Homo sapiens: one gene and its partners. The protein of the gene in region 3 interacts with the protein of the main gene of each other region in a pairwise test. Each region holds a gene or a part of one and is shown on either strand. Other genes may lie near its edges. The genes, in order: ALDH1A3, SLC44A2, TRPV2, SDC3 and ST18.

Region 1 (5,724 bases), on a different chromosome or scaffold from region 3:
TGGCTGGGAGCGTTCAAGTGATTTTTTTTCTTCTTTACATCTTAATATTTCTACAGTGGCCAAATACCAATGTTTGTTTCTGATTATAAAAAGCATTTAAAAATATTTCCTAAAGAGTATTTTTCTCAGGGACCCAAGTACGGAAGGACTTTCCACTGGCTGCCTCAGTGTGAACGCACACGAGCCTGCTGTTCACAGATCAGGTGGGAAGTGTCTGCCTGGCATTTGATCCCAGCTGGGAACTTGTGGTCCAAGAGTGAGAATGGGGAAATTCCTTCCTTTCTGGATTGCAGAACTGACCATCGTGGAACAGTTCGCAGACAGGGAGGAGCATGAAGGCCGTTTTTCTCCCTTCAGCCTCACCCACCCCATGGGAGCAGAACTGGATCTTTTGTGCACTGATAGAATAATCACAACGGAACCTTCTTTCTAAAAGGAAAGAAGTGAGGGCCATTTAGAGTAGTGTCACTGTCTCTTTTTCTCAGGAAAATGGGCCACATTCATCTCGAAGGCCCCTCCATGCCTCTCTCTTTCTAGGAAGGTACAGCAGGGAGTGGATGTGGGACACCAGTCAGGAGTGACTCTACCGAGTCTCTGTGTGTCCAGAGCTGGCTTGGGGGTGAGCAGAAGCTTGGCAGGGGAGATGTGGGACACTGAATTTCTTCTCCCAGGCTCTGGGGTGGAGGCCAGGACCTTTCCAGCTGCAGAGGGTGTGGTGGCCTCTGGCTCAGAACAGTCACTCAGACCAAGGGAGAAATCAAGGCCCAGGGCAAGGGTCTCGTTCTCCTCCTAGCACCTGTACGGGGCACTTGGGAGTCTCCTAGTGGAAACCCCATTCCATGTCATGGCTTCCCCCCAATGCCCTCACATTTTTCTATGAGCTCCTCTGTGCCACTTTCTTTGTTAGCAGAGCCTAACTGTCATGAGGTGCCACACAGAGGGGGGTCTGTATAGGTGGGGCCAGTGTGCATTTGCACGTCTGTCACAAAAACTCATGGGCAAGATAAAATCCAAGCCTACTCTGCACACGCCCTTCACTGCATCCACTTCCAACGTCATCAGTTTGCTGACCAAGAACATCAGTCCAGCACTCCAGCAGCTAAGGAAACATTTACATCTCCCTGCCCTCAGTGGAAGGGCTTTACCTCTGCACTGACATTCAGAATAGATTTGATGGCCTTGCAATGTATAAAGGACACATTCGGAAGTCCCTTAGCTTCTGTATTACTATATAGACCTTGCACTTGCAAATAGAGTGATAAAGGTTACCGCTTTCCATGCTCATGTAAATTTCTAGGAGAAAAGAAATCTGGTGGTTACATTGTTAACTATCCCCGCATCACCCGGGTAGCAACTATTTTTTTTCCTTCAAAGTGTCTATTTTTTTCTAAAGTGTCTTCTGCCAGAAAGCTTCATTTCGTGAAACACACCAGCGGGAAATGCTTTCTGGAAAGATTCTTTAATGCCTCCAGGTCCAAATAATTGATAAAAAAAAAAAAAAAAGAAAAAAGAAAACCTTTCCTTTAGCCATATGATGAGGATAGCTGAGGTCATCCTCATAGTAGGAGAAACATCTATCAAGGGAGAATGATTCTCTGCAGAGGATCATCGGTAATTGATGCCATTCTGTGCCACACGTCTGAGAACCACATGCCAATTCACGCAGCTAGCCCAGGCCCTGCCCCCAGGATAGGCCAGTTCTGTCTTATAGCTAAGCCGAACCGTTTCCTTATCCTTTGGTCATCCATAATTGAATTACTTAGAGCAAATTTATTTTAAGTATTTACCTTATCTCCTTCTTCCACTTCACATATTTGCTCCCGAGTTGAAGGGTTACATGTAGCAAACTTTTTCCCACTCTTGGATTCGTGCCATTCATTGTTGATAAATATCTAACCAGGAAAGGAAGTGTAACCAATTAGGTTTAGATCAAAATCATATAATTTCAACATGCTAAGGACCTTAGGTGACGTCTTATCCATCTTGTCCACCTTCCTCTCTGCTGCTTCCCTCTCCCCTTCGACATCTTATAGATGAGACCCGGAGGGGAACAGAGTCCCAGGACTGCATGACCAACAGATCAACTAGGACAGACTCGAAATTCAAGTTTTGGTCAAATAAAACTATAGTCACTTAGAGATTTTTTTCTAAATTATTATTATTATCTTCAGCAATAACATGGATTCACAGAGGAATGGCTAAGTTAAATGGTTAAATAGAGGCTGTGAATGGAATCTCATACCCCAATAGACTTTGGGGGAAGAGTCAATAGGTTTATATACATAAAAGTCCCAAGCAGTCCGCCTGCCCCTGAAGGGTAAGGACGCACCGAGCACTCCCTTTCTCCTTTCAGTGGCAACACTCAGCAAGATTGATTGCCAAGGAGCTCACTTTGAGGAGGATCTCACCATCGCCCTTCAGTTTTCACCAATGCACATCAGCATGTCCCTCCCCAGCACATTCCCCTTAAAATGTGTATTTTCATAGCAAACCACCATGGCGCATGTTTACCTATGTCACAGACCTGCACATCCTGCACATGTACCCTAGAACTTAAAATAAAAGTTGATAAAATGTCAAAAAAAAAAAAAAACCCAGAAAAACCTCCGAAGCTTGATAATAAACCAGCGTTGAAGTACAAAGTTAAATGTCTGGGTTAGAAACTTTCCAGGTTACATTAAGAGATGTCGCAAATAACTGTTTATATAACCCGCAGAAATCACTTTTCTGGGAACCTCAATGATCCAGAATGCAGATGAGAATGAAAGTTTTTTTGACAAAAGACATCATGAGCAGACTAAGAAGAACATACGAAGTCCATGCACTGAAACATATGTACTATTTACTGTTAGTTTACACTAAGTTCTAATTGTCTTATTAATGTCATATTAAAAGAGAGGGCTTTTGGAAAAAACTAGGAAGAGACATGACAGACAATATACAAAACACATTCCGACAGCACGGAGGTCCCCGGCTGCCCAGCCAGAAGACACACAAACTCCTGCTACACCAACTTGGAATGGCTTCCTCATCACAGCCTATCACAGCATCAGAAGAACCCCCGTGGCAGAAATGGCTGACACGCATGTCTCTCAAGTAAAATGCCGTCAGTAATTTCTGAGTACAGAATTAGTTCATCAGGTTCCGTTTTTACATCTATCTGCATGTGGTATACATAGCTTTACTTTGCTTCTTTTTGAATTGTTTAAAGGAAGAATTGCGTCCCTCAAGGGCTAATTTCAATTATTGTGAAATTGATTCATTTGAAACATTTGACTCCCCAGTGATGACAGATGAGAGAGGGCAGCCATCTCCTAAGCATGAGTCTTGGTTACATTCTCTGTATTGGGCTTCCTGTATAAACTCCACAGCTCCGGCTTAATACCTGGGTGATGGGTTGATCCATGCAGCAAACCACCATGGCACATGTTTACCTATGTAACAAACCTGCACATCCTGCACATGTACCCCAGAACTTAAAAGTTGATAGAATGTTAAAAAAAAAAAAAACCCACAAAAACCTCTGAAGCTCATAGTGAGGAAGCCTGGTCTGAGTCGGTTGGGGACCAAGCACAGGAGGCAGACTCTGGCTGGGCAGGTGAGCAGAGACCAGCTGCCCCCCAGTTTGGAATCCAGAACTGAGAGCATCGGTCACCATTGGGATTTGCCTGTCTGGCTTCTGGAAGCTTAGCGTCTCCAATGTGAGGCCAGGCCCCCAGGGAAGCGCACCAGGAAAAGGCCAGGCTACAATTACAGGTTTATTCTTCCAGCTGAAACTAAATCCAAGAGTTCACTTTTGCCATCCAGCAAGTCATCACTTGGTAACAGCGAGAAATTAATAACTGAGGAAGAAGAGTTAAGTTAGTGCGGGGAGGAAAGTGCAGCCAGGAAGAGGGGCCCATTTGTAGAAAGATGAAATTTCGTGGGTTAGATAATAGAGACTGTCAGTGAAAATTGCTGATTCTAGGTCCTTCCTGGTATCAACTCCAAGGGGGAGGGAAAATGAGAAGGTGGCAGAAGAGAATATAAATAAGGGGGCTGAAAACAGATTACAATGATCGGATGTCTGCTATACTGCTATACTTCATCTCCAAGCATGCTCCTCCAAAAAAAATTACTGTTTGTTCATGACATTGATCTGTAACCAGCAACCTTAAAAAAAAATCAGACTGTTTGACTCTAACCATATTTTCCCATCACTATGTTTTTAATTTTGTAAAATCTTTTACTTTATACCACACTACAGTAGTAAGTAATCTTGTAAGTGGTTTCTACTGTTGATTTTTCTCTCCATTAAAACAAAACAAAAGCACAAATATAAGGAAAGGGTATATAAATATGGTCTACTGATTATGCTGGCTGTATTGTTTTGAACTCCAAATCAGGGTAAAGGGTCTAGAAGGAATTGTTGTCTTTGATTTGTGGATTAGCATACAACAAACCTTATAGAGGTATAGCATTAAGCTACATTGAGCTGTAGACCTGGTTCACATTTTACAAAAGGAACAGAATGACATGGAAGCAGGACGGAGCTGTAAGGTGTCTCAGGCAGAGGTGAAGATGACAGTCATACAAGTGAATCCTATTGATGCCGATTTCCCGTAACTTCCATCTGACAACAGGCCACTCAGCTAAACTCAAAAAGAATATGTTTTCAGAAAAGGAGATTTGGGGGAATTTTATTTTTCATAAGAGAGATAATAAAAACCGGTGTTTTAAAAATCAGAAAACTTTGAAGAGAATCCCTGCTACTGGAAGAAATTTTATAAGGAAAGAAAGAGGCCCTCTAAATTAGAAGGGACTTCTATCCTCTGAGATCTGTGTGGGGACCCTGGAGGGGCTCTCAGCTCTCCAGAATCACACAGCATGACCCTAGAGAATGAAATGTTAACATGTGAGGACAAATGAAGGGGCTTTGACAAAGTCATCCTGAAAGTTGGACCACCCTGGGAAATGGCACTGCCGGGGCTAGGGCTCAGATGGACCAACTCTGGTGTGTGCCCCATTATCGAGAAGCACCATGAGTCAATTTTGGAAAATAGCAGACCACTGCTGGCTCCCATGCTCCACCGTCTGCTCTCCTGCCAGGCCACCCACCTGCCGGGCCACTCGCCCACTCTGGGCCTCAGTCCTGCACTTCAGTTTATCCCGCTCCTTCCCTCGGCAGGCACTCTTGGTGGCCTCACTCTCGGCCGCCTCTCCAGTCCAGTCTCCCTGAGGACTGTGCCAGGGCACTGGTTGGCCACCCTCAGCCACACAAGCTGCCTGGGTCCACAACTGCTATGGGGAGGTCTCTGCAGAGATGGGCCAGGAGCCAGGACAGAGCAGGCAGCAGCACAGTCCCCCAACGGGTGAGGAGCCAGCAGCCGGTGTCAGGCAGTTGGGGCCTTTATCGCCTGGGAGACCACTCAAGATCCCAGCACTCCAGGCCGATCCACCAGCTTCCCTCAGCCTCATTCCTGCACTGGTTCCCTTTAACTGGCAAAGGTTGCGCACCCACCAAGACAACAGGCAACCATTGCTCTGTGAATTGTCTAAGGTCTCCATAAGGGCTACATCTACACTTTAAAAGTGTCCTAAAAATCATAGAGAAAGAGGTAAACTTTTTGTATGTGGTCAGATTGCTGATAGGACTCAAAAACATAAAAAGTAAAAGGACCATAATACATTTACTGTCTGGTTTCTATATACAGTATTTTGAAATCCTGTACAACCAAAAGAAAA
Region 2 (5,724 bases), on a different chromosome or scaffold from region 3:
GATTGTGCCACTGAACTCCAGCCTGGGTGACAGAGTGAGACTCTGTCTCAAAAAACAAATCAAGGCTGGGCGCGGTGGCTCACGTCTGTAATCCCAGCACTTTGGGAGGTCGAGGCAGGCAGATCACGAGGAAGTCGAGACCAGCCTGGCCAATATGGTAAAACCCCATCTCTACTAAAAATACAAAAAAAATTAGCCGGGCATGGTGGTGTGCGCCTGTAATCCCAGATACTCGGGAGGCGAGGTAGGAAAATTGCTTGAACCCGGGAGGCAGAGATTGCAGTGAGCCGAGACTGCACCACTGCACGCCAGCCTGGGTGACAAAGCAAGACTCCGTCTCAACAACAACAACAAAACAACAACTCAAAAACAACAAAAATCCAAAATATGAAGCACTGTTTTGTTGAGCACGATATTGTGCCTCTGGATTCCACAGGCCTGAACTAAACAGGCCCCTACCCATATTTTATCTGCTCATTACCTCCTTGTCATTTAGTTTGCCAACTAGAAATATGAATTACCCTCATTTTATAGAGAAATAAATTGAAGCAGTCCGGGCGCGGTGGCTCCTGCCTGTAATCCTAGCACTTTGGGAGGCTGAAGCGGGCAGATCTCCTGAGGCCAGGAGGTCGAGACCAGCCTGACCAACATGGAGAAACCCCATCTCTACTAAAAATACGAAATCAGCCGGGCATGGAGGTGCATGCCTGTAATCCCAGCTACTTGGGAGGCTGAGGCAGGAGAATAGCTTGGACCCAGGAGGCGGAGGTTGCAGTGAGCCAAGATCGCGCCATGGCACTCCAGCCTGGGTGACAAGAACAGAACTCCGTCTCAAAAAAAAAAAAGAAAGAAATTGAAGCACAGTTAGGTTGAGGCACTTGCCCAAAGAATTGGCAAAGCCAGGATTTGAACCTCTGCTATTCTGATACCAGAGTATGCATCCTTAACTACGGTGCTGAGACATTTTTTCTTTTTTTTTTTTTTTTGAGATGGAGTTTCGCTCTTGTTGCCCAGGCTGGAGTGCAATGGCGTGATTTCGGCTCACCACAACCTCCGCCTCCCAGGTTCAAGCGATTCTCCTGCCTCAGCCTCCTGAGTAGCTGGGATTACAGGCATGCACCTCCATGCCCGGCTGATTTTGTATTTTTAGTAGAGACGGGGTTTCTCCATGTTGGTCAGGCTGGTCTTGAACTCCTGACCTCGGGTGATCTGCCTGCCTCGGCCTCCCAAAGTGCTGGGATTACAGGCGTGAGCCACCACGCCCGGCCTGACTTTTTTTTGTTTTCCTGATGGGCCATTTCCACGGGAAAGGGCAGGGCAGTGTGCGGATTCAGGAAAGAGAAGCCACAGGGAGGGGGTGACGCACCGTAGCCCAGCACCAGAATCACCATGATGATCATCACCCAGACCATAATACCAGCCAGGAAGCGAAGCAGGATGATGAACAGGAGGCTCATCGCCATGGCAATGACCAGGCCTCTGGGGAAAAGAAAACGGTCATGAACAGACTCCACCCTCAGCCAGGCTTAGAGGGGGCAGCCAGGGGAGAGGCCCCTTCCCTCCTGACTTACATGATAATCCAGTACCAAGAGACGGTGTAATCTTCAAATATGCGCATGGCGAGTTGCCGCGCCTCTAGGACTCCATTGGCTTTCCTGGGGGAAGGAGGACAAGGCTCGGGTCAGACCCTCTTCCATGATCAGGCCAACCACAGGGGATTGCCTGTCCCACCCAGCAAAGTGAGACCCTGGCGCGGTGCGCCAATATCCTCACTTGGCGCCCTCCACCAGGTCTGTGATGTTTTTCCGGGAGCCATGCCCATCCTCATAGGTCGTCTCATTGCCCACCATCAGGACACCCTTGTAGGCGTGGATAGCGGGGAAGCATCTCCGGGCCACTGCATGGAGCAGAGGATGGCACCAGTCAGGCTGAGCCTCTGCAGAGCCTCCCCGTCACCACCTGAGCCTCCTGGGATCCCCTGACTCACAGGGTTTGCTGGGGATGAGGACAGCAGGGCAGTCACCATCTTGAAGCACCTCAGCCACTCCCTGCCAAGAGAGATGGAGGGAGGTGAGTCCCCAAGTCTAGTACACTGCCACTGCCCATACCTGTGCTCTCAGGACAGTCTACAACTCACTTTATTGTTCTTGAAGCCAGGAACACAGAACTGCTTATAGTACTCAAAGTCCCGGGAGCTGCGAGCATTCAGGTACGTGAGGTAGCGGTCGGGGCATTTTTCCACGCAGATCTGGGAGGGGAGAAGGAAGGGATTGGGTGGAGTTGGGGCAGACTGCTCAGGACTGAGGTCGCAGCCCACATTCACAGGGGGAAAAGGATGGGAAGCGGGGAGAGGAAAAAGGGAACGGTGGGGACCAGGTTACCTGGGGAGTGGGACATTGGAATTCCAGCAGAACCAGGGGGCTGGCACATTTCACAATGTTGAAATAAAACAGATAGGGTTTGTTCCTGGAGTTAGAGAAGGGAGAATGGAAACTGTTAAGATTTTTTTTTTTTTTTGAGACAGAGTCTCGCTCTTGTTGCCCAGGATGGAGTGCAATGGTGTGATCTCGGCTCACTGCAACCTCCGCCTCCCGGGTTCAAGCAATTCTCCTGCCTCAGCCTCCCGAGTAGCTGGGATTACAGGTGCCCGCTACCAAGCCCGGCTAATTTTTGTATTTTTAGTAGAGATGGGGTTTCCACCATGTTGGCCAGGCTGGTCTCAAACTCCTGACCTCAGGTGATCCGCCTGCCTTGGCCTCCCAAAGTGTTGGTATTACAGGTGTAAGCCACCACACCCGACCTGTTAAGACTTCTTAACCACCCTATAGAAAACTTTTTTTATTTTTCTCTTTTTTTTTTTTTTAGATGGAGTCCTGCTCTGTTGCCTAGGCTGGAGTGCAATGGTGTGATGTGGGCTCACTACAACCTCCGCCTCCTGGGTTCAAGCAATTCTCCTGCCTCAGCCTCCCGAGTAGCTGGGACTACAGGTAGGTGCCCGCCACGATGCCCAGCTAATTTTTGTATTTTTAGTGGAGACGGGGTTTTGCCATGTTGGCCACACTGGTCTCGAACTCCTGACCTCAGGTGATCCACCCGCCTCAGCCTCCCAAAGTGTTGGGATTATATGCGTGAGCCACTGCGCCCGGCCTCTTTTGTTTTTTTTTCTTTTTTGAGACAAGAGTCTTTCTCTGTTGCCCAGACAGAGCGAGCAGTGGCACAATCTTGGCTCACTGCAGCCTCTACCTCCTAGGATCAAGTGATCCTCCACCTCATCCTCCTGAGCAGCTGAGACTACGGGTGTGCGCAACCACACCTGGCTAATTTTTTCTATTATTGGTAGCGACAGAATTTCACCATGTTGCCCAGGCTGGTGTCAAGCAATCCTCCAGTCTGGGCCTCCCTAAGTACTGGGATTACAGGCGTGAGCCACCGTGCCCGGCCTATTGTTTCCTTTAAGATATTTTATATGGCCGGGTGCAGTAACTCACACCTGTAATCCCAGCACTTTTGGAGGCCAAGGCAGGCGGATCACCTGAGGTCAGGAGTTCGAGACCAGCCTGGCCAACGTGGCGAAACCCCGTCTGTACTAAAAATACAAAAAATTAGCTGGGTGTGGTGGCGGGCACCTGTAATCCCAGCTACTTAGGAGGCTGAGGCAGGAGAATTGCTTGAACCTGGGTGGCGGAGGTTGCAGTGAGCCAAGATCGCACCATTGCACTCCAGCCTGGGCGACAGAGCGAGACTCTGTCTCAAAAAAAAAAAAAGATATCTTATATAGGGCCAGGCAGGGTGGCTCAGGCCTGTCTTGTGCCAGCACTTTGGAAGGCCCAGGTGGGAAGATCGCTTAAGCCCAGGAGTTCCAGGCTGTAGCGAGCTATGATCCTGCCACTGGCTGACAGAGTGAGACACTGTGTCAAAATAATAATAATAGTAATAATAATAATAGGCCGGGTGTGGTGGCTCACACCCGTAATACCAGCAGTTTGGGAAGCCAAGGCAGGCAGATAACCTGAGGTCAGGAGTTCGAGACCAGCCTGACCAATATGATGAAACCCCGTCTCTACTAAAAATACAAAAATTAGCTGGGCATGGTGGCATATGCCTGTAATCCCAGCAACTCGGGAGGCTGAGGCAGGAGAACCGCTTGAACCCGGGAGACGGAGGTTGCAGTGGGCTGAGATTGTGCCACTGCACTCTAGCCTGGGTAACAAGAGCAAAATTCCGTTTCAAAATAATAATAGTAATAATAATAATAATAATAGTTTAAAAACTGCAGCATCAGCAACTCTATGCCAGGTGCCATTCTTTTTTTTTTTTTTGAGATGGAGTCTTGCTCTGTTGCCTAGGCTGGAGTGCAGTGGCACGATCTCGGCTCATTGCAACCTCTGCCTCCCAGGTTCAAGCAATTCTCCTGCCTCAGCCTCCTGAGTAACCGGGATTACAGGAACATGCCACAATGCCCAGCTAATTTTTTTGTATTTTTAGTAGAGACGGGGTTTCACCATGTTGACTAGGCTGGTCTTGATCCTCCCACCTCAGCCTCCCAAAGTGTGCTGGGATTACAGGTGTGAGCCACCACGCCCAGCGATGCCAGGTGGCATTCTAAGCTCTGTACATGTATTGGCACATCTAACCATCAAAATAGCCCCATGAGGGTGGGACTGTTATGATCCTCATTTTAGAGATGAGGAAAACGAGGTTCAGAGAGATTGAGACACCTGCCCTAGGTCACAGAGCCAGGAAGTGACGCCACTCAGGCTATGCTTGCTCTGTTGTCTCACCTGTTCATCACCACCTGACGCGTAATCCAGGACTGTCCCCTCTCAGTCTCTCCCGCCCTTAAAATGTGTGCTGCCAGAGAACAGGATGCTTACTATCTCATTTAGAGCTGTGTGTCCCCAAGGACTAGACTAGTGGCTGAGGGTAGTGGGACGTTTATCAGTACTTGTTTTCTTTTCTTGTTGTTTTGTTGAGACCAGGTCTCGCTCTGTCGTCCAGGCTGGAGTGCAATGGTACAATCATACCTTACTGCAGCCTTGGCCTCCCAGCTCAAGCTATCCTCCCACCTCAGCCTGCTGGGTAGCTGGGACTAGAGGTGTGCCCCACCACGTCCACTTAATTTTTGCTTGTTTGTTTTGAGACAGAGTCTCACTCTGTGCCCCAGGCTAAAGTGCAGTGGCACGATCTCGGCTCATTGCAACTTCTGCCTCCTGTGGTTCAAGTGATTCTCCTGCCTCAGCCTCCTGAGTAGCTGGGATTACAGGCATGTGCCACCATGCCTGGCTAATTTGTGTATTTTTAGTGGAGACGGGGTTTTGCCATGTTGGCCAGGCTGGTCTCGAACTCCTAGCCTAAAGCAATATTCCTGCCTCGGCCTCCCAAAGTGTTGGAATTTCGGGCGTGAGTCACCGCGCCCAGCCTATAAGCACTTGTTAACTGGACTTAGAGAGATGGGGAATGCCTAGAATCTTCTGCCCCCTCTTCCCCAGCCCCACCAGGCCGCAAGGAGTCAACTCACTCGTTTTTTGTGCCCTTCTGCCCGCAGAACTCGCCCCGGCTGTCAGTGGGGTAGATCACCTTTCGAGGGTCTCCATGAGTCCAGGCTGTGGAAAGATCCAGGGATACTGAGACACTGCCACTCCTCAGATCCAGCCCTGTTCCCACTCCAGAGGCCATGGCTGCCTCCGCCTACCCTGCAACTCCAAGTCCTGCTCATTCTCTACT
Region 3 (5,724 bases):
CAAGATTGCATCACTGCACTCCAGCCTGGGCAACAGAGCAAGACTCCATCTCAAAAAAAAAAAAAAAAGGAAGGCATTTCTGACACATGCTACAACATGGCTGATCCTTGAGGACATTATACTGAGTAAAATAAGCCAGACATTAAAGGACAAATACTGTATGATTCCACTTCTACGATGTAGCTATGGTCATCAAATTCGTAGAAACAGAAATTAGAATGGTGGCTTCCAGGGACTGGGGGAAGGGAATGGGGAGTTGTTTAATGGGTGTTGAGTTTCAGTTTGGGATGACAAGAAAGTTCTGGAGTTGGATGGTGGTGATGGTTATACAACAGTGTGAATGTACTTAATGACACTTAGCTGTATACTTTAAAAAAAAAAGGTTAAAATGGGCCAGGCGCAGTAGCTCATGCCTGTAATCCCAGCACTTTGGGAGGCCAAGGCAGGCGGATCACCTGAGGTCAGGAGTTTGAGACCAGCCTGGCCAACGTGGTGAAAACCTGTCTCTACTAAAAATACAAAAATTAGCCGGGCATGGTGGTGGGTGCCTGCAACCCCAGCCATACGGGAGGCTGAGGCAGGAGAATCGCTTGAACCCAGGAGTAGGGGTTTGCAGTGAGCTGAGATGGTGCCATTGCACTCTAGCCTAGGTAACAAGAGTGAGACTCCATCTCAAAGAAAAAAAAAAAAGTTCCATGTTAGGTGTATTTTACTACAATTAAAAAAAAAAAAGCCTCTGGGGACCTCCAAATCCCTCCCCGTGGAAGGGGCCCCTGGCCCTTCCCTTCCTCCCAACCTCCTCACCTCCACCCTCCTGCCATCTCCCCAGCCACCTAGCCTCCTCACCCTGTCCCAAGCACCCCAAGCTCCTTCTGGCTCGTGGCAGCCACTGCTGTGCCCTCTGCTGAGAATATCTCCTCTTCACCCTGCTGTGGCTGAATCATTCTTTCAGGTCTCAACTTAAACATCCCCTCTTTAGAGAGGCTTCCCAGACCATCCCATCTAAAGGGTACTTGGTCCCAGCCATTCTGCATCACATTGTCCTGTGCTTTTTTTTCCTTCATAGAATTTAGCAGTGTGGAATGTTCTCAGTTGTTTTCTTAAGGTTTTCATTTCCTCCCACCAGAACATCAGCTTCAGGGGAGCAAGGACTTGTTCTGTTCTCTGCTATATTCCCAACACCTAGAACAGGGCCCGGCCCACAGTAGGCACTCCCTAAACATGCGCTGAATACATAAATGAATGCAGTTACATGCCCGCGCCCACACATCGCAGGACACAGACATGCAGATGAGCTTATGCACATATTCTTTGCTCCTTGCTTGTGGAAGGATGCACATGCTCCCGTGTGGACACCTGCAAACACACATATGTACGTTTGTTTGCGTGTGCATGCAGAGCCCTGAGAGAGGTATGTGCAGGCCTGTACTTAAGCTTCCATCCAGCAAGCATCTGAGTGCTGGCGCACAGGCAGATGTACACATGCCCTCCTCTGCCTAGGATAGCTGTGGAGGAAGGCTCTTCTTGCCTGATGAGGCCAAAAGAGTCCCGGTGGGCCACCCCCTTCTCTCACCTTCTGGATCATGACACTGTAGATGCCTGTGTGCTGGAAGCCACGTGTATAGTAAAGCAGGTTCAGCCAGCCCAGCACCAGCGCAGACACAAGCAGGGGCAGGTACCACTCGATGGCCAGGAAACACAGCACCTGGGACACCACTGTGAGCAGGGCCTGGAACAGGCTGTGTGGGAGCAGAATCCAGGTGGGCTTGCGGGCCACTTGGCTCCCTGAGCCCCCACTGGCCTATGCTGACCAAGGTCCTGACCTCCATCTTAGGCAAGACATTTAACCTCTGTGGGCCTCAGTTCCCTCCCACTGTAAAATGGGCATAATAATAATGATGCCTGACTCATAGAGTGTTTTCAAGGACTAAGTGAAACAGGTATGTGCCGAGGCCTAGTAAATGTCACTATCACCATCTACAGTGATGGGAGCACAAGGGGCCCCAGGCTGGACGGCAGCCCAGACTCCTGGGACTGGCCTGTACACAGATCCCGACTTCCTGGGCCCCGTGTCCTCGCCTCTAAAGCCAACCTGGTGCCTTCTGCCACAACTGCCCCTTCCAGACCTCAGAGACAGTTGAGAGAAGGAGGAGTGAGAACCCACGTACAAGAGGATTTCAAAGTAGCTGTCTATGAACGAGATCCAGATGAACACGTGGCGCCGCCAGAAGTACCACAGCTGCGGAGGAAGGGAGGACAGAGGGCTGTGAAACCTGCTCTCCCGCATGCCCCCTGCTGGCCTGGCTGAGTGGGAGCCTGCCACCCAGGCTAGAGCTAAGTCAGCAGCTTTGGTTTTGGGGGACTCATGAATACTTCTGATAGCTGAGATAGCTTGGGACTTTCTTTCCAGAAAGAGCAGCCACCTAGGCAAGGCCGGGGGGTGCAGGTGAAGAGCCTGTGCACTGCATGCAGGAAGGGGAAGAGCACCTTTCCCTTCCCTTCTCCCTGGCCTCACAGGGAGCACCCATACCCCAGCCAACCTGCGTTTGGTGCCCAAGTTCTGCCCACTCTGCGGAGGTCCCAATGTCTTGGTGTCCAGCCTGTGTCCTGCAGGCTTACAGCATTTCCCACTGAAGAGGCCCTACTGGGGGAAATAGCCTGAACCCCACCTACCTCTGGTCTCTGTGCTCCCCAAGAGGGGAGCTTCCCAGCCGAGGGGCCTGGCTAGGGGCAGGCGCTTCCAGCTCCATTCCTGGGGGAGCAGAGTCTGTACTGCCAAGGAATCAGAGAAGCTATCTGCTACCCCAAGGAACCCCAAAAGCACAGCAGAGGGGTTCCTGGGGACTCAGAAGGCAAGGCCAGAACCTCTGGCCCTCAGCTTCAGTGAGGCTGGTTGCTCTGGGTGGGACTGGGTATTGTCAGTGAGGGGATGCAGCTAACTTTCTCTAAGCCCCCTGAAGCAGAATTCTAGGTTTGCTTCTTGGTAGGAGAAGGGGAGGGGCACTCACCTGGCCCACGAGGAGGTAGATCCCCCCTAGCAGGATAAGGATGTGGCCCGTCAGCAGCATGGAGTTTCCAACCTCCGCTTTCAGGTGAGGGGCGGCCTGCTGAAGACACACTCAGATGAGACCTAGGGCCTTGGGTCCTCTCTCGAACAGCTCACCCTTCAGAGCTGAAGCTGAGGGCCTACTCTGAGCCTGAGCTGTGGAGAGGCTCCTCAGAACGGCATGGGAACATGGGCTCCAGGGAAGGACCCCTGGATCCTGAGAGGCACATTGTGTAGCATTTCAGTGTAGGGTCTGAAGCCAGACTCCCTGGATTCAGATTCCCTCTCCACACCACTTCCATTCTGTGTGACCCTGGGCAAGTTACTTAACCTCTCTGTGCCTCCCTTCCCTCTACTATAAACTGGGGGTGATTATAATTCACCATCTCAAGGGTTTTGGGGCACATTAATTAGTCAACACATGTCCATCACCTAGAATCCTTTTTCACATACAGTGAGCACTCAGCAAATCTTCACTGTATCACCGTTAGTACTGCAGTGCTGGCTCCCATAAGCTTGGGAATGTCACTCCAGCAGCCCATGCCTCAGCACTATTACTGCCCCATCTTCCCCCAGGGTTGTTTCAAGCAGGCCTCCCCCAAGATGTGCCCCCCCAAACCTCACGCCCTTGCCTTCTTCAGGGTAGGCTGATGGTAGGCAACAGCGGTGAAGATGAACATGTAGATCAGATTACACAGGAAGTTTAAGAAGAACTTGGGGATGAGCAGATCCCATTTCGCCTGCAGCAGTTTGTTCAGGGGCTCCAAAACGACCATTCGGTGTCGGTGCTGGGGTGGGGAGGGGAGAGCCATGGGTACACTCAACAAGTGCAAATAGGCTGCCCACTCCATGTCAAGATCAAAGCAAGGGCCCAGGAAATGAGGAGAGAGGACAGGGAGCAGGCTTCCACACCCCAGGAGCCCCAAAGGACCTCACGCCAACCCTCCCAGCTACAGTGTGACTAAGGGGCTTGCCCTCCAAATGAGATGCTGGTTAACAGAGAGGACCCGGATGGTTGCCACGAGGCCCTTGGCATGATCCCCGTCTTGGATGGGACTAGAGTATGGATTGAGTATGGGCCCGGTGGCCATGGTCAGGGTCGTGCCTGCTGGGACATGCAGCCACACCCCCACTGGCACAGGAATGGGGCAGATATGGTCCAGCAGGCAGCCCCAATTTGTGGACCTTGCTGGAAACTCTGCTGGGTCCTCTGCGTGCACCCATGCTCCTGTGGGCTCACCGGGCTCTTGCAATGAAAGGCAATGATCTCCAGCACTGAGTTCTCCTCACAGCTGTCCACAGAAGCCAGGTCATACAGCGACACCCGGACAGGCCCATAGCACCACTCGGTGAACTTTCGGGAAAGGTGGCTCAGTCCTGAAAACTCCCGCTGCAGGATGTGCCTGAAAATCTGCAGGGTGGCCATATGAGCTTGCATTCATGGTCCCTTCCTGGCACTGATCCTGGGCCAAGGCTGGGAAACACCCAGGACTCAGCAGCTGCCCACGGTCTGCAGAGCTGCAGCTGACACGTGCACGTACCCCCATACACGCAGGTCCTTGTTTGTCTAAACTCTTAAACACACACACGCACCCAGCCACATCTGCCCCAGCCTGCCAGCCAGCCTGGCTCTTCCTTCCCCTCCCCTGCCCTGTGGCCTTCCTTGAACTCCTCAAATGGCAGATTGATCCCTAGCCCTGGGGTCCTTGAGGCCCCTGAGATCAGAGTCTACTAGCTGTATCTGTGTGTGCACTTTCGCGGTCAGAATCTAGAATTTTCAACAGACTAGAAAGTGGTCCCTAATCCAAACAGGTTAGGAAGCAGTCTGGTTTCACGCGTGAGGAATGGGAAAGGAGGAACAGATCAGGACACTGCTTTCATAGGCCACACAGCAGTGCCTCTAGACAAGAAAGTGAGGTTCACACACCCCAGGGAGCACTCCAAAAAACTTGGGAGGGCAGCGAAAAAGGGTTAAAACTTCTATTTATGTTTATCGTTTCCTTAATCTTTCAAAAATCTCCACTGTAAGCCCATGAGGCCAGCCCTGGTGAGCTATTGGCAAAAGCTATTTGGAACAGGCCATTGGTAAGCTATCTGGAACAAAGTGGGGGCTGCCTCATGTTTACTCTTCCTACCAGAATAACTTCCAGCTAGTCAAAGCTCTAGGCATTAAAAATGCAGCTGCAGGCTGGGCGTTTCGGCTCATGCCTGTAATCTCAGCACTTTGGGAGGCTGAGGCAGGTGGATCACCAGAGGTCGGGAGTTTGAGACCAGCCTGACCAACATGGAGAAACCCCGTCTCTACTAAAAATACAAAATTAGCCGGGCGTGGTGGCACATGCCTGTAATCCCAGCTACTCGGGAGGCTGAGGCAAGAGAATCGCTTGAACTCCGGAGGCGGAGGTTGCAGTTAGCCGAGATCGCGCCATTGTACTCCAGCCTGGGCAACAAGAGCGAAACTCCATCTCAAAAAAAAAAAAAAAAAAATGCAGCTGCAAAAGTTTGGAAGAAAATATGGGTATGAAGATTATATATATACTATATATAATTATAATGTATAATATAATGTATAATAGTTATAACATATATTATGTACATATAATATGTATTATATATATAAAATCTTGTAGCAGGAATTAGACAATAGCAAAACCATGGAACCTTAAAGGAAAAGATAG
Region 4 (5,724 bases), on a different chromosome or scaffold from region 3:
GATGGTGGGGAAAGGTATTCCAGGAAGCAGGAACAGGCCTGAAGGAGCCCGTGTTCCCAGAACTGTAAATAGTTTTGTGTGGGAGGAGTATGGGGGTGGGCAGCTGGGAGTGGGGTGTGGGGGGTGCTGCTGGGTCTGGAAACGGGGCCTCAGTGGGTGGTCCTGCTCTCAGGCACGAGCTTGGGGACAGGCATCAATGAGCAGTGTGAGTCAGGGTGGCCAAGAGTGACGTGAGAGGGCAGGTGGCTGGGATTGATGGGGCGGTGACGGAGGCGTCCCAGCCCTGGGTTGAGGAGGGGGCCTGGCTTTCCCAGGGTTGCATTGTCAGCTTCTGTCTAGGCACAGGGGACAGAGTGGGCTGCTGTAGGGCAGCCAGTCTGCACCTCAACAGAGACTGGCCAGCCCGGCTGAGCCAGGAACAGGGCTGATGGGAGAAGGCGGGCGGGTGGGTGTCTGGGCACCACAGGCCAAGGTGGCCGCCAGACAGGCTGATGCCAGGGGAGGGAGCCAGGTCCTGCCAAGCCAGCCTGTCTGTGGTGAGACTCGGTTGGGCCGTGGGCCCTGCCAGCTCCCTCAGAGGCTTTTGTGTTCATTTCCTTTCCACCCCCCTTTTCAGTTTCCTCGTAAGGTCCCTCACGAACAGTCTCAATGGGGTCTCAGCAGAACCAGGGGACCCGGAAGTTTCACAGACCAGAGAACACCAGGGATGGAGACTCAGGGAGGATGTGCGCTCTCTAATAACAAAAGTGCTATGGGTTTATCGGAGAAATTGTGGAAAATACAGAAAGGTCCTGAGAAGAAATTAAAGCTGCCTGTAATCCCACCACCCAGAGAGAGCCTCTGGGAACCTTTAGTTATAATGCAGCATTTGGAAATTCACTTTGATAGTGAGTTCATTAAAACAGGATCAAGTTCTACATATTTTTTGTAACCTATTTTTTAAACATAATGATGATACTCATATTAATAGCCAGCATTTACTGAGCAATTTGTTAATGGGTGAACATGCCCAGCCTCCTTCTGTAAACCCCACGAGGTGGGCATTCTTATCTTTGTTTTACCAGTTAAAGCAGCCTGAGAGAGTTAAATATCTGCCCAAAGTCACATCGGAATTGAGAGAGCCATCTGCATATTCCTATCAACAGCTATACTGTCTTGTCTTCTGATGATCAATATGTGCATTTTCCTACATCCTTCAATATTCCTTGTAGCAAGTAAAAAAAAGCCTTCTATGACACATTTATGTCTTTTAATAACCTCATTAGACAGTGTAGATTTGTGAGAACTCAATTGTTGATAGCTGCGTAATATTCCATGTTATGGTTGTACCCTCATTTATTTAACTCGTCCCCTGTCGTTCAGTATGTGGGTTATTTCCATTTTTTCCCTCTCGTAAATTACATTGTCCTGGATCTCCTTGACCTAAGGATCAAATTCTTGGGAGTCCAGAGTGTCAGAATCAGAAAGGCCCTTAGACCACCATGCTTGGTTTTCCATTTTGCAAATGGGGCAAAGGAAAGGCAGAGAAGGGGGAAGAGGATTTGTCCACGGTCTTGGAGGCTGTGGGCGCCTGAGCCAGGGCTGCTACCTGCTCTCCTGTTGGGGCTGGGGTGGGGATGTGGGTGGAGGCAGGTGCCACAGTGGGAAAAAGGGCATCCTGGGGGGATGGTGGGAACACAGGGCTGGGTAGAGGGCAGACTGGAGGTGACAGGAGAGATACAGGCTTGGGGTAGGGAGGGCTCTGCTGCCATGATATCTTTGCAGAGGAGTTGACTGGGATGGGACAGGCCCAAAGGGAACATTTCCTGCCCTCTGAGCTGCCTTTGTAGATGGGAGTAGGGGGTGGGGATAGGTTTGGTTTGTGAGAGGCTTGAGTGTGTGAGTTGGGGCGAGTGGGAGGGTGTGTGTCTGGGCTTGGTGGATTTTTCTTGGGGGGGGTCTGTGGTGTTTCAGCTTGGCCTTCTCTGCCCTCCCCATTCCACTCCTCCCCGGGCTTCTGCTCTCTGGGACTTGGGCTCCATAGCCCCTTCCCCAGCAGGTGCAGTCCTCGTGCCCCTCATCTCCAGCCACAAGTGGGTGTGGGACTGCCGGCTTCCTGGCCAGGGCAGCTGTGGCTGGGTGGGGGTGGGGACTGAGACATCCCCCTCCTGGTCCCGGCTCCCAATTGTGCAGCCCCCTTGGCTGTCTTGCTGCCCGGAGCTTGGCCCCAGCCCACATTCCTGCGGTGATGCTCTGGGTCTCCGGGGTGGATCTGGTGAGCGTGAGGGGCACTGAGTTCTCACAGGACTGAGGGCTTTTTGGGGACGGAGCCTGCAGGGATCCAGAGGGCCATGCTGAGACACCCTCCCTCCCTGCCTCGAGGAGCTAGTAGTTACGTCGCTGTGTGTCTTTGGGCAAATCACTTTACCTCTCTGAATGCTTCGTGGCAGACTAACCCCGCCCCCTCCTTTCGTGATAAGCAAGGCTTTCCCCTCTCTGTGCCTCAGTTTCCACATCGGTAAAAGGGGAGAGTTGAACTCAGTGATCCCTCAGGCCCAGTGTAGCCTTGAAGTTGCAGCCTGAGGTGGGAAGTGCAGGCTGTAGGAATATAGACAAAGCCTTATACGGCTCCGACTGTGTGCAGGCATGATCTCACTTGATTCTCACAACTGCCCTATGAAGTATCATTGTTGGCCTCATTTAACCAAACAGGCTCAGAGAGGTTAAGTAACACATCCAAAGTCACCCAGCAAGTAAGCAGAGCTGAATTTGAATCCAAGACTGTCAGAACCTAAAGCTGGGCCCCCACCCCTTGCTCATGTCGCCTCTGGTCACCAGGAAAGTGAGGCCTGAGTCTGGCTAATTAGGGGAAGGAAGCTCGGGCAGAACTAATTACACTCGATTTTATTCTTGGCTTTTTGCAACATGATTAGCGCTGCACAGGGGTGCCGGGCTCCTGGCCCCCAGCCTGCTGACCTAATTTGTGTGCTTGTGTCTGTTTCTGTAACTTGCCCTTTCTCCCCCTTCATCCAACCTCTCTCTTTTTGTCTCTCTCTGCACTCTCCCCTGCTGTGTGGCCTTGGCAATGCCACTTAACCTCTCCGGGCATTAATCGTCTCATCTGCCTGGGTGTAGTCATCCCAATTTGGCTTCCCTCATGAGGAGGTTGAGGCTTACATGAGATAAAGGCTTCGAAATAATAATAGAAATTTTAACATAAACTAACAGCAATCGTGGCTACACTGATTTATTCATTTTTCACTTGGTGTCGGGTCCTGTGCTTAGCCCCTTCCCACAGCAATGCTATGAGCTGCGTAGTCTTCTCATCATCTCCATTTTACAGATGAGAAAACTGAGGTGCTGAGATTAAATGGCTTGCCTGACAGCCAACCGGGTAGTAAAGAGGAGCTGGTTCATTATGCTTTGCCTCTGTGCTGACCGGTTTCTCTAGGAAGGCTCATGGTGGTGTGGGGCTGGGCACGAGAGACCCCAAATTCTGGAGTGGGCTCTGAGAGAGGATGGGGTGGGAGGGATGCACTGGCCTTCCTGAACGTGTCCCCTGCACTCAGAGTGAGTGATGAGTGGGTGGGTAGAGGTAGCCGTGAAAGTGAGGAGACTTAGCTGACATCCAGCTCATTTGGACCCTCACCCATCACAGCCCTGATGGGGTGCTCCTGGGAGGGAGGGGGCTGGGCAACCTGGGAGGTGGCACCTCCTTGCCCCTGGCCCAGGGGAGCCTCCCCAGCTGCTGCTCTAAAACTCTAGGAGAGGATCGGTGGGAGTGGATGTGGAGTGAGGGGGCCTGTGGGTCACTGCTGGGCCTGGTCCCTTCTGGGCTGGGAGCCTGAGGTGCCTCTGTGGAGTGAGGCTGTGGGTTACTTCAGGAAGGTGTGGTGACTAGGGGACTGTGAGGAAAAATGGAAGCAGGGGGCATCAGTCCACTAGGAAGGGTGCCACATTTCATCCCGATGTGTGTGTGCACTTGTGTGTACCCGGAAGGAAAGTGCGTGTTTGCGCGCATGTGTGTGTGGAGGGAACTGAGATGCAGGTATTGTGGACCTGTTAATGGCATGTGAGGCGGGATGTATGTCTGCTGGGGCAGGTTCAGGGAGGGACAAGTAGGCTGCGCACATGTGGAGGCAGGGTGTTGGGAGTGCCTGGTGTGTTGGGTCCCGTGCTCAGCCCCTTCTCCTGCAATGCTATGAGCTGCATAGTCTTATCACCATCGTGTGCTGGCGCGTGGGTGTGGATGTTGGGTGGGCATGGACAGCTGTGGGCATTGCCGAGTTGATGTCATGCAGGGGGTGAGGGCAGCTGCGGGGCACAGATGTATGAATTTAGCCCTGGACAAGCAATGGGTCTGGGGGTGGCTCAGGAATGTCCAGGACAAGGGTTTCAGAGACAGAGGCCTCATGCCTGGATTCTAACCCCTGCCTCAGTTCCTGCATCTGTGGAATGGGGATGATAAAACCCTGGGCAGTTGTGATGCTTAAAGGAGGCTGCATAAATAACATGCTCCCAGCACCTGGCCTGGGGCAGGCCCTCAGCAGCAGCAGGCAGAGGTCTCTAGAGTGCCCTGGGAACGCTCAGCGGCTCCCCTGGGACCTGATGCTCAGGCCTTCATGGGCCGCTTGCGGAGCCTCTGCTGGGTGTCCCCTCCCGAGATCAGTGGTGGCCGGAAGCAGAAGGTTCAGTGCTTCCACCGGGCACGCTCGCTGTGTGTGGGGGGTGCAGCCGAGAGGAAAGGTTGTATCCGAGTTGTGAGGTTCATGTCTGAGTCAGAGGATGCACCTGCCGAGGGTGATGTCTAGGAGCGATGTGTGTTTAGGGAACATACGTGGCCATGGCGGTGGGTCCGTGTTGTGGGCCTTGGTGAGGTGAGTGTGGTGCGTGGGGTCAGGAGAATGTGCTGAGGTTTCTCGGGGGCATCCGTGGGGTGTGTGGTGAGGAGAGGAGTGTGTGTGTGTGTCTGTGAGTACCCTAGGGCATGTGTACAGGCAGCTAGGGGTGAAGTAGATGGGTGAGTGTGTGCTGGTGTGGGCTGGGCTGTATTGCCTATAGGCTGTGGTGAGTATACAGATTGGTGTGGGCAAACATTGCACTTAATAGTGTGTGTGTGTATCCATTGGGGTGCATAGTACATGCAGAAGAATATATATGCATGAGGATGTTGGGCTGTCGTGTGTGTGTGTGTGTGTGTGTGTGTGCATGCGTGCGCGCGTGTCTTGGGGGTATGGAAGCCTCCTATCAGGCATGGGGGGGTTGTGTTTACCTGGAGGGGGCACAGTGAGGGTCAAGGAGAAGCTGGCAGCGTCCTGGGGCTTTTGGATTCAGTTCTCCTTTAAGGGAATGGCATGGATAATTATGCTTATTATGATGGATTATGCAAATGCGGAGGTCGTTTGGGGGTCAAAGCCTGCTTGTCACCCTCCTCCTCAGGCATTCTGTGACTTCTAAGGCTTTCCCTGCTGCCTCCCAGGCTCCGTTCCCCAACCCCTATTTCTCTGTCCCCTCTGGGAGTTGCAGCTACCAGCACCCCCTCTGTAGTGTTCCTGAGAGGGCCTCATGAGTCCCAGCGCCCATGCCTGCAGGTCCCAGGTGTCCTCGCATTAAGTTCCCGCTGAGCATCCCAGGTGGGCTCAGGGGTGACTGGGCCGTTCCTCCCCCTGCACACCCTGCCATTGGGGATGCTTGCTGTTCGGAAAGAATGTACTCTTGGAAGCAGGTTTGGAAAATTACTGAGGT
Region 5 (5,724 bases), on a different chromosome or scaffold from region 3:
GAGGGAAAAGCCTGGTAACTGATCACCAGTGTTTCTGTTCTTTTTACTTTATAGTTTGTAATTTACCAAGGCATGATTAATTTTGCTGATGTTTAAGTTACTTACAATCATATTAAGAGTTAGAGAGGAGTGATATCAGCAAGATGGCTGACTAAAAGTGCCCAACACCCATTTCCTGGACTACCCCCACAAAAAATGAATAAACAATGAATAAACAACTACATTTTGACCACAGTGGCTGAAGAAGAGTGCGGGAGTACAGCAGGAGTGGCAGAAATCCAGTGGAGCACAAACACTAAGTATGGGCTCATACAGAAGAGGAGGAATCATGCCACACCCTTGCCACCCCACCTGTGCCACCCCATTCTCTTATTCAGCTCAGAACCAGGAAGGACTCCTTCCTGGGGGGAAAAGGTAAGCAGGAGGTACCCAGCAGCCCCTATTACCATTGTGGACACCAGCAGTCTTCACCACTGGAGAATTCTACAGTCCTCAAGGTCCCTGAGCTCAGCTTGGGGAGCTGCCTGGAGTTCACATAGCTGCACTGCTCCAAAGAAGGAGCCCACATTGTGCCTCAACTCTTGTAGGCCAAGCTGCTACTGCACTGTGCCATCTGGAAACCAGAGCCACTGCTAGAGTGTGTCCTGCTTGGGGGTCCAGTAGCCACTGTATCTGTTTATCCCTGAGGCCTGGCCACCATTGCACCATGCTTTCAAACATGGTAGTGCAACATTCCCCAACTGAGCTGCAGCAACTCCATACCCCCTGGGAACAAGCTACCTAGAAGCCACCCCATTTCCCCCATCCAAGTTGCTACTGTGCCCCAGCCCCAGCTACTTGGACCCAAGGCCCAGTGGAGCAGGCATGCACTTCAGTGCCTGAACCAGCCCAATGTCCCACCCCCAGGAAGTTGGAACTTTGGTCTAGGGGAGCAGTTACATCCCTGGTATCCAAGCCCTTATGGCAGTGTGCTCTTCAGGTTCCTGGATCCCAGCCCAGCAGAGCAGCCACACCCCATAGTGCTGAGCTGATGTGGTATACTGGCCCCCAGAGAAACAGCCTTGGCTGAGCTGTGCTGCCCCACCCCTGGGCTGAACAGCTGCCGTGCCCCACCTTCCTGGGTCTGGGCCAGCCCTCTGGAGTCTGAATTGACTCCAGAAGTGGCACCTGCTTCCCAGAGCCCAAGCAGTAACTGTGCTCCACTGTTCTTGGGTCCTTGCTGCCACTGCACCTGGCGTCACAGAGACTGACCTACTGCTGTATCCCACTGCTCTGGGACCATAGTCATCACTATGCAGTACCCCCACTTCTGATGCCTGAGTTGCCACTGTGCCCTATTGGTTCTAAGACCTGAATTGCAGCTGTCGCCTGCTCTCTGGGGACTGAGCGTCTAGAACACCCCTTCTTCCCTGGAGCCATGTCAATGCTGTGCCCTGATCTCCAGGATTAGAGTCACAGCTACATCCTTGAACCCTGGGCCCAAGCTACTGGGAAATGCCTTAGAGTCACAGTCCTTGGCTTGGTGGGAGACCTGCATCCACCTGTGCCTCAGAGAATGGACCTGTGCCCACATCACAGGTGCCACAGTAGTTCAACAAGACACTGAGCCCAGGACCCCAGTTCTACAGCCATTCCAATCACATGTGCCCTTGAACACAGTGATGCTATGGCTGCCTGTGGCCCATGTCACACCTGATAATAACAGGGATCCCCTCAGCTAAGTGTGCCCACTGTGGGGAAAATGACAACAGGAGAACCCCTAATGCCCTTGCTGCCAAGAACCCTAACAAACTACCATGCCACCACCACTGCCACAAACTCCTACAGCCGAAGACACTGAGGTACTTGCAGTCATTGCTGATATTAATCACAGCTGAAGAAGCTGCACAGAGACTACATTACTGCACCCACTCAGAAGCAGAGCCAAGTACTCTGCTGACCTGACACTCTAGGACTCATCTACAGGCGAAAGTCTTTCCCTATGAAAGCCCTCTATAAAATTAGAAGAGGCAACTGTTCCACTGGATGCACAGGCATCAACATAGGGACATAAGAAATATGAAAAAGCAAGGAAACATGACACCACAAAAGGAAGACCATAATTCCCTAGTAACTGGCCACAAAGAAATTGAAATTGCTTAAAAAGGAATTAAACCTAATAATTTTAAGGAAACAAGAGAATACAGATAGACAATGCAACAAAATTAGGAAAACAATTCATGATCTGAATGAGAAAGTCCACAAAGAGATAGCTATCATAAAAACTAACCAAACAGAAATCTTATAGCTGAATAACTCCATGAATAAAATTTTAAAATTGACAGCTTCAACAGCAGACTAGATCAAGCAGAAGAAAGAATCTCTGAACTTGAAAAGAAGTCTTTTGAAATAACCTAGTCAGGAGGAAAAAAGAGTGAGGAAAGCCTATGGGATTTATAAGACACTCATTAAGTGACAAAATATTTAAATATGGGGTTGTTAGAGGGAGAAGAAGGGGAAAGGCATGGAAAACTTATTTAACAAATGAGTTGCTGAAAAATTCTCAAGTCTTGGGAGAAAATGGACATGCAGATTTATGAAGCTTAATGATCTCCAAACAGGTTCAACCCAAAGAGGGCCCCACCAAGTCATATTACAATAAAAATGTCAGAAATCAAAGACACAGAGAGAATTTAAAAAGCAGCAAGAGAAAAATGTCAAATGACATATCAGGAAATCTCCATTAGACTGTCAGCAGATTTATCAGCAGAAACCTTGCAAGCCAGAAGAGAAGGGAGAAATATACTTAAAAGTGCTGAAAGAAAAAAAACCTGTCAGCCAAGAATATTACACTTAGTAGTGCTGACTTTCAAAAATAAAGGAGAAATAAAGTCTTTGCCAGAGAAGCAAAAGCTAAGAAAATTTATCACTACTAGACCTGCCTTATAAGAAATATTTAGGGGAATTGTTTAACCAGAAACAAAAGGATGATGATTACTATCATGAAAACATATGACAATATAAAACTCGCCAGTAGAGGTACATTTATTGTCAAATTCAGAATATGTAATTACTGTAGTGGTGGCGTGTAAATCTTTCAACTCTCTAGTATGAAGGTTAAACATCAAAATGGTCAAAAATAACTGTGGCTACATTAAGTTGCTAAGAAATATGCGATATAAAAATATGTAAATTGTGACAACAAAAACATAAATTGTGGATGACAGGGGAGAGGTTAAAAGTCTAGAGTATTTTTATGTGATCAAAGTTAAGTAGTTATCATCTTATAATAATCAATTATAACTATAAGATGTTTTATGTAAGCCCCATGGTACACAAAGCAAAAAACTATAACAAATACACAAATAAGGAAGAAAAGGGAATCAAAGCTTAGCACTACAGAAAATCAACAAATCACAAAGGCAGACAACAAAAGAGGAAGAAAGGAAAAAGAATCTACAAAACAACCGAAAACAATTAACAAAATGGCAAGAGTTAAGTCAATACCTATCAATAGTAACTATTATCAATAATAACTGAATGTAAATGGATTAAACTTTCCAATCAAAAGGCAGAGGGTGTCTAAATGAATAAAAACCCAACATCCAACTTTATGCTGCCTACAAGAGACCCATTGTAGCTTTAGGGACATACACAGGCTGAAAGTGAAGGGAGTGAAAAAAGATATTCCATGCAAATAGTAACTGAAAGAGCAGAGATGGCTGTTTATAGCAGATAAATAGACTTCAAGTTAAAAACTGTTGTAAGAGCAAAGAAGGTCATTATGTAATGGTAAAAGGGCTAACCTATTAAGAAGACAAAACAATTGGAAATATATATGCACCCAGCATTGGAATACCTAAGTATATAAAGCAAATATTGATGGACATGAATGAAGAACTAGATAGCAATACAATAATAGCTGGGGACTTCAACACCCCCCTTTCATCAATGGATAGATCAATCAGACATAAAATTAATAAGGAAACACTGGATTTGAGCTTCACTTTAGGCCAAATGGACCTAACAGACATATATGGAACTTTCAATCTAATAGCAGCAGAATAAACATTCTTTTCTAGTGCACATAGAACATTCTTCAGGAAAGCCCCTATGTCAGTCCCATAGAAGATTGAAATTATATGTACCATTTTTTTCCAACCACAACAGTATGAAACTAGAAGTCGACAACAGGAGGAATCTTGAAAAATTCGCAAATATGTGGAGATTAAACATGTTCCTGAGCAACAAATGGGTTAAAGAAGAAGTCAAAAGGAAATTTAAAAATATCTGGAGAAAAATGACAATGGAAACATAACCTACGAAAACCTATGAACTGCAACAACAATAGTACTAAGAGGCAAGTTTATAGCAATACATGCCTACATTAAAAAAGAAGAAAGATCCCAAATAAATAGCCTAACAATATGCCTCAAGGAGCTAAAAAAAAAAGAGTAACAACTGAAACCTAAAGTTAGCAGGAGAGAAATAATAAAGATCAGAACAGAAATAAATAAAAAACAGAAAAACCATAGATAAAATTCATAAAACAAAGAATTGGCTCCTTGAAAAAAATAAACAGAATCAATAGTCCTCTAGCTAGACTAAGAAATAAAAGAGACAAGACTCAAACAAATAAAATCACTAATGAAAGTGGAGACATTACAACAGACACATCAGAAATAAAAAGGATCATAAGGAACTATTCTGAACAATTGTATGCCAATAAATGGTATAACCTAGAGGAGATGAATAAATTTATAGAAAAATATAACCTACCAAGATTGAATCAGGAAGAAATAGAAAGCTTGAATTTACCAATAACAAATCAAGAGAATAAAGAAGTAGTTAAAAACCTTCCAACCAAAAAAGCCCAGGACCAGTTGGCTTCAGAGCTGAATTCTATCAAACATTCAAAGAAGAATTATTACCAATAATTCTTCTATTCTTCCAAAAATAGAGATACAGACAATACTTCCTAACGCATTTTATGAGGGCATTATTACCTTGATACCTAAGCCAGACAAAGACACCACAGAAAAAGAAAACTACAGGCCAGTCTCTCTGATGAATGTTAATACAAAAATCCTCAACAAAATATTAGCAAACTCAATTCAGCAATGCATCAAAAAGATTATACATCATGACCAAGTTTATTGCTGGCGTGCATGTTTGGTTTAACATACACAAATCAATGTGATACATCACATTGGCAGAATGAAGGAAAATAACTCCATGATTATTCTCAATTAACATCTCAATTCTGTGTCTCAATTGATGTAGACAAAACATTTGACAAAGTTCAGGATTTTTTCAGATCTTTCAGGATCAAAACTCTTAACAGTTTAAGCACAGAAGAAAAGTTCCTCAACATAATAAAAGCCATTTATGAAAAACCCACAGCTAACGTCATGATCAATGGTGAGCAACTGAAAGCTCTTCCACTATGATCTGATACAAGGCAGGAATGCCTGTTCTCACCACTTCATTCAGCCTAGTACTGACTACTAGCAAAAGCAGTCAGATAAGAAAAGAAATAGAAAGTATCCAATGACAAAAGAGAAGGAAAATTATCTCTATTTGCAGATGACATGATTTTATATACAGAAAGCCCCGTAGATTCCACAGAAACTCTTAAAACTAATAAATGAATTCAGTACATTTGTAGGATATAAAATCAACATAGAAAATCAGTTACATTTCAATACATAAATAACATCCAAGCTGGAAGAAAATCAAGAAAAT

What was found.
Region 1: the proteins of TRPV2 (region 3) and ALDH1A3 interact in a protein complementation assay, tested with the Homo sapiens proteins (one study listed by IntAct).
Region 2: the proteins of TRPV2 (region 3) and SLC44A2 interact in a protein complementation assay, tested with the Homo sapiens proteins (one study listed by IntAct).
Region 4: the proteins of TRPV2 (region 3) and SDC3 interact in a protein complementation assay, tested with the Homo sapiens proteins (one study listed by IntAct).
Region 5: the proteins of TRPV2 (region 3) and ST18 interact in a protein complementation assay, tested with the Homo sapiens proteins (one study listed by IntAct).

The regions. Positions count from the first base shown.
Region 1 is NC_000015.10:100,881,435-100,887,158, reverse strand, and holds part of ALDH1A3 (retinaldehyde dehydrogenase 3), read right to left. Parts: intron 1,893-5,724; coding exon 1,788-1,892; intron 1-1,787. UniProt on the Homo sapiens protein: Catalyzes the NAD-dependent oxidation of aldehyde substrates, such as all-trans-retinal and all-trans-13,14-dihydroretinal, to their corresponding carboxylic acids, all-trans-retinoate and all-trans-13,14-dihydroretinoate, respectively.
Region 2 is NC_000019.10:10,627,799-10,633,522, reverse strand, and holds part of SLC44A2 (choline transporter-like protein 2), read right to left. Parts: intron 5,604-5,724; coding exon 5,519-5,603; intron 2,467-5,518; coding exon 2,382-2,466; intron 2,249-2,381; coding exon 2,138-2,248; intron 2,049-2,137; coding exon 1,988-2,048; intron 1,898-1,987; coding exon 1,774-1,897; intron 1,656-1,773; coding exon 1,572-1,655; intron 1,480-1,571; coding exon 1,367-1,479; intron 1-1,366.
Region 3 is NC_000017.11:16,424,832-16,430,555, reverse strand, and holds part of TRPV2 (transient receptor potential cation channel subfamily V member 2), read right to left. Parts: intron 4,458-5,724; coding exon 4,287-4,457; intron 3,835-4,286; coding exon 3,679-3,834; coding exon of another isoform or gene 3,667-3,678; exon of another isoform or gene 3,666-3,666; intron 3,108-3,665; coding exon 3,009-3,107; intron 2,240-3,008; coding exon 2,169-2,239; intron 1,740-2,168; coding exon 1,574-1,739; intron 1,357-1,573; coding exon of another isoform or gene 1,297-1,356; exon of another isoform or gene 237-1,296; intron 1-236. UniProt on the Homo sapiens protein: Calcium-permeable, non-selective cation channel with an outward rectification. Seems to be regulated, at least in part, by IGF1, PDGF and neuropeptide head activator. May transduce physical stimuli in mast cells.
Region 4 is NC_000001.11:30,880,490-30,886,213, reverse strand, and holds part of SDC3 (syndecan-3), read left to right. Parts: intron 1-5,724. UniProt on the Homo sapiens protein: Cell surface proteoglycan that may bear heparan sulfate. May have a role in the organization of cell shape by affecting the actin cytoskeleton, possibly by transferring signals from the cell surface in a sugar-dependent mechanism.
Region 5 is NC_000008.11:52,398,198-52,403,921, reverse strand, and holds part of ST18 (suppression of tumorigenicity 18 protein), read left to right. Parts: exon of another isoform or gene 1-221; intron 222-5,724. UniProt on the Homo sapiens protein: Repressor that binds to DNA sequences containing a bipartite element consisting of a direct repeat of the sequence 5'-AAAGTTT-3' separated by 2-9 nucleotides. Represses basal transcription activity from target promoters.